Linked DNA regions of Homo sapiens: region 2 is linked to region 1. A link means that fine-mapping ties the variant in region 1 to the expression of a gene that starts in the linked region. Tissue or cell type: whole blood. Region 1 holds a variant in brackets; the other region holds the start of a gene. All regions are shown on one strand. Distances are between the middles of the regions.

Region 1 (2,681 bases):
ATCCGCAGCAGACCAGCCCCTGCGCTGTGGGGGGCTGGCCCCGTGGCAGGTACCACTACAGCTGAGGTGGGCCCTAGAGGGGTGTCCACTGTGGTTGGGGGGTCTGGGACAGGTAAGACAAGCTCACAGGTCTTGCCACCATAGCCACTGGGGCAGAGGCAGTCGAAGTCGTGGACACGGTCCCGACAGCGGGCCCCTCTCTGGCATGGGCGGCTGGCACAGTCATCCAGGTTGATGGTGCAGAAGCGTCCAGCAAAGCCCTCAGGACAGAGGCAGGAGAAGCGGTTTATGCCGTCAAGGCAGGTGGCACCGTTAGCACAAGGCCGCATCAGGCAGTCATCCACATTTACCTCACAGCGGGCACCCACAAAGCCCACCAAGCAGCGGCACGTGAAGTTGAGAGCAAAGCCCTGGTCGTCCTGGCACTGCCCGCCATTGCGGCATGGGGAGCTGTGGTAGGGGTGAGAGAGGACATGATAACCAACTTACCAACACCTGTAGGGCAGCCCAGGTCAGTATCCTGACCACTGCCCGCCATGTCATCTTGGGCTACACACTCCGAGCCTCAAATACCTCATTTTAAAAATGAGAATAAAAATAGTACCCAGCTTCCCTAATTGTGAGGGTTGAGTGAAATAATCAATGTCAAGCCATTAGCACAGGGCCCAGCCAGAAGGCAGGGCTCAGGGTAAGTGTGCTATTATTATCCTCACAGGCTCCTGGGCCTGATGCAGAAATGAGGACAAGTCCAGCCCTGCAGGCTGTTTCCTCATCCCTACTGTGACACAGAAGGGTGCAAGCCAGCGTTCAGGAGAGGATGAGGAGAGACCCAGGCCCTTCAGTCTCCCCACACCCACCCTCCCCAACCAGAACAGTCACACGTTTGTTACCCCTCTAGCTCCTATAGATTGTTGAAGAAATGGCTCAGAAGGTACAAAAAAAAAAGTTGAGAAACCCTGAACTAGGAACACTTTGGCATGCAGGGGTTTTATCTGAGTGTCCCCGTGTGGGTCTGACTCTCAGTCCCCCACCCTCCCAACAGTCCTGCCTCTTTTCTCATCCCATCACCAGGTTCTGGTCTAA[C/A]CTTCCACTCACCCTGAGGGCCCAGCACTCACCCTGCCTGTTCACAGGGTCCAGCCTTGCGCTCGCAGTCACGCCCATGGAAGCCTGGTAAGCACACACAATGGTACTCACCGCCCCCGTCATACATGCACTGGCCTCCATTCTGGCAGGGGGACTGCGTGGTACAGATATGTTCATCTGGAGAGGGGACAGGAAAGGCTCTGGGATAACCCCTCCCATCTGGTCCCCAGACCAGACTTGTCCACGCCTTCCAGGCCCCAGGTTCTGTAGGTGTGGCTATACTACAAACCCAGCCCAGGCTGGCGTGGTATGCTAGGGAGAGACAACAACACTGAATTTGGAGTCAGGAGGCTCCTGGCCCTGGCTCTCAGTCTGTCTCAAACTGACCTTGGGCTGGGTACTGTGGCTCATGCCTGTAATCCCAGCACTTTGGAAGACCAAGGTGGGCAGATGACTTGAGGTCAGGAGTTCAAGACCAGCCTGGCCAACATGGCAAAACCCCATCTCTACTAAAAATACAAACATTAGGCCGGTACAGTGGCTCATGCCTATAATTCCAGCACTTTGGGAGGCCAAGGCGGGTGGATCACTTGAGGTCAGGAGTTCGAGACCAGCCTGGCCAACATGGTGAAACCCTATCTCTACTAAAAATACAAAAATTAGCTGAAGTGGCGGGTGCCTGTAATTCCAGCTACTGGGGAGGCTGAGGCACGAGAATCACTTGAACCCAGGAGGCGGAGGTTACAGTGAGCCGAGATCGCACCACTGCACTCCAGCCTGGGTGACAGAGTGAGACTCCATCTCAAAACAAAACAAACAAAAAAACCTGACTTTGAGCAGGTTATAGCTCTTCTGTGGGCCTTAGTTTCCTCATCTGTAAAATGAGTACAATTTTTAGCAGCTGTGTTTCCTGCCCCATGGGGTTATGTTGAGGATCAATTCAGACAACATATAAAAAGTCTAAGATTTAAAAAAATGATAAAATACCATGTATTTGAGGGTTTGACAAGGACAAAATAGGCACTCAATAAATACTGATGGCTGTTCCCCTAAGAACATGGGGTTCCCAACCAAAAGCTACCCTTCCTCCCCCCTACCTTTGTCACAGAACTTGCCTGCCCAGCCACTGTGGCAGATGCACTGCCATGGCTGGTGGCAGGTACCGTGCTGGCAGCCAGGCATCCTCACACAGCGCTCACAGTGCAGCCCCTCCCAGCCCGGGTCACACCTGACGGGGAGAAGCACAGGGTCAGGGCTCTGGGTCATGGATGTGAAGAAATGGAGGAGACAGAACCAGAGCTTCTAGAAACCAAGAGGACATATGACAGCCCCTAAGGGAAAGCAGACCTGTCCCAGGTAGGTGTAGGACTGTGCAGGGTCATAGGACACATATACGGAATCAGACCATCAGACACCAGCACTCAAACCCTGGTTCTGTACTTTAACCTGAGCCTCAGTTTTCTCACCTGTAAATTGGGGATACACCTTGCAGGGTTGAGTAGAGGAAGAAATAAGATGTCTGTAAATGCCTCCAGTACCCCTCCTGGCATGTCTGAGGTGCTCACAAACATTTAAAGAAGAATGACCTTGAAAGGCCA
Region 2 (2,681 bases), 25 kb before region 1:
CACCTGAGGCCAGGAGTTCAAGACCAGCCTGGGCCAGGTAGCAAGACTCTGTTAATTAATTACTAAAGATTGTGAAATGCAAACCTACATCTCTTAGTTTTTAAAAATAGGAAAATTAATTCTTGACGTTGAGGGATATGGGGCTTCTTACTGAGATTAAGTGGGATAACCATAATTGTCATTTGTTTAGCTTTTCTTCTTCAAGCACTGTACACACCTATGTAAAGGCGGATACCAACACCATGCCTGACAAACATAATAAAATAAAGATGCAGAAGTAACCTGCCCAACATCCCTCTGCTAAAAGCATTCAAACCCAGGTCCGTATAATTATAAAGGTTATGTTCTTCCCACTGCTTCCTTAAAAGATTTATTGGAGGACTACCCTAGGCAAAGCACTTGCCCTAAGCACTCTAAATTAATTATTCAACTCTCTCAACAGTACTTTAGTATTGGTATTGTCCCTGTTGTACAAATAAAGAAGTTGAGGCTCGGCCGGGGTGGTGGCTCACGCCTGTAATCCCGGCTCTTCGGAAGGCCAAGGCGGACGGATCACGAGGTCAGGAGATCGAGACCATCCTTGCCAACATGGTGAAACCCCGTCTCTACTAAAAATACGAACAAAAAAATTGGCTGGGCGTGGTTGCGCGCGCCTGTAGTCCCAGCTACTCGGGAGGCTGAGGCAGGAGAATCGCTTTAACCCGGGAGGCGGAGGTTGCAGTGAACCGAGATTGTGCCACTGCACTCCAGCCTGGTGACAGAGCGAGACTCCGTCCCCCCCCCAAAAAAAAGTTGAGGCTCAAAAAAGTTAGGTAACTTGTCCAAGGTCATGCAGCCCTAGAATAATAAGGGAAAACAGTGTGTCCCAAAATGGCATTATTTGTCCGTGGGGCAGGTATGTTTGAATTTCCATCCATCCATCTATCTATCTGAGACTGGGGTCTCGCTATGCTGCTTGGACTGTTCTCGAACTCCTGGGCTCAGGCCATCCTCCTGGGATCTACCGGCGCGCAGAGACTACGGGCGCGCAGGGACTACCGAGGCGCGCAACCGTGCCCGGCTCCCCACCTCTTCAAGAAATGGAGATTGCAATGCTTGTGCCAACTAGTAAGCTTACACAGTTGTGAGCGAATACTCCACGTGAGAGGTTATAAATGACGTTGCACTAAGGGAGGGATGGATCCTTAACGCAAGTCAGGCCACAAAAGCGTACCAAAACGCAACTGTGCGTCTGCACCAGCGCGCCTGCGTGCAAAGGCCAGCCGAAGCAGAGAGCAGTGCACATGCGTGCAGCTACCAGCATATGGGCGTGGCGAATAGCGCCGGCTAGGTCTTCCAACCTCTAGGTGGGGTGCCAGCCGGGGCGGGCCCAGCACCCCGGCCGGGCAGTACTTTTTTTTTTTTTGCATACACCAGTTCTCAGGATATCGGAATCCGGTGCACAGCAGCTTCTTCAGGTTTGAGGTTCCGGATGCCTGGGGGCGGAGAAACGGGAGGGGAAAAACAGATGGCAAGGTGGGTGACCAGCGTCCAGAAATCCACTGGGGAAACCTCCTCCCGTTTTTACCCTTGGTACCGCGAGAATGGGCGGGGTCTGGCTTCGGGGCGGAAGCGACGGGCGGTCCCGGTTCCAGGGCGGGGCTGGAGACAGGGAGACCCGGCTGGGAAGTGCAGGCAAAGCCGGCTGTTACCCTGCACAGCCGTCACCCTCAACTTTCCCTTCAGGTGAGGCGTCCATGGAACGACTTCTGGCCCAGCTGTGCGGCAGCAGCGCAGCGTGGCCGCTCCCGCTGTGGGAGGGGGACACCACAGGCCACTGCTTCACCCAGCTGGTGCTCAGCGCCCTGCCCCACGCGCTCCTCGCCGTGCTCAGTGCCTGTTACTTGGGCACCCCGAGGTGGGTAGAGACGGGCGCAAGGCATCTGTCCATGTGTGCCTGCAGATCTCACCCGCGGCCTACATCTTCCGGCAGTGTCACCAGAATAGCGAGGTCTCTGGAGTAGGGCAGAAGTAGAATAAAATCTAAGCATTGCTACTTAGCAGCAATGTGGCTGTTCTTGGGCAAGTACCTGCCTTCTCTGAGTCTCATTGTTGGGAGGTTTAAATGAGATAATGAATTTAAGCATATAGTGCAGCGCCTGGCATGTTTTTAAAGGTCCGATGAGTATCAGAAATCATCAGAATTGTCCATTTTCAGCTACCCGGACTCAGCTGTCATGAATTGGAGGCAGAATTGGGGGAACAACGTTTTTAGCCAAAAGCGATGATGTGTTTAAGTTGTAGGCTCAGTTTCTCACCACTGCAACCCATGAAACCTTAGTGTTTCCAGATTAAGAAAAGCATACCTAGGCTCAGCTGAAGAGGAAGCAGTAGATAGACAAGAAGAGCAAAATCAAACATTAAGCCTTCCCCAATTAAGGGCTATAAGGTGTGGATGCTAAACTCAACTTGATTTTGTATTTAGTTCTTGTATGGCTAGAGATGACTAAAGTTAGTCTCATTCTGGCTGCCGAGAAGATAGGAGGACGGTGTGGTCTCTGCCTTTGGGAGTTCCTAGTCTGATGGGGGGAAGTGTCTCTATCCAAGAGGTCTTTCTTGCTTTCTCATTAGACTGAGTTCCCAAAAGACTGTGCCAATTTTTAATAGCTGCTCTTCTGAGAAGGCTGTCTATGCTAGGTGAT

The links. PIP is the estimated chance that this variant, and not a neighbour inherited with it, causes the effect.
Region 2: ABCC10 starts here. The variant in region 1 is fine-mapped to the expression of ABCC10 in whole blood (TOPMed, PIP above 0.99).

What each region holds. Positions count from the first base shown.
Region 1 is chr6:43,450,825-43,453,505 of GRCh38, forward strand. It overlaps DLK2 (delta like non-canonical Notch ligand 2), which reads right to left. Exons shown (of 6, transcript NM_023932.4): 4 at 2,181-2,311; 5 at 1,116-1,260; 6 at 1-450. It also overlaps a transcript of ABCC10 not described here. Among named protein-coding and RNA genes, the nearest start is that of DLK2, 3.4 kb to the right of the region's middle. The variant C/A (reference allele first, on the strand shown) is at 1,084.
Region 2 is chr6:43,426,243-43,428,923 of GRCh38, forward strand. ABCC10 (ATP binding cassette subfamily C member 10) reads left to right here and starts at 1,299. Exons shown (of 22, transcript NM_001198934.2): 1 at 1,299-1,515; 2 at 1,726-1,897. The coding sequence starts at 1,737. RefSeq lists an enhancer at 1,876-1,945.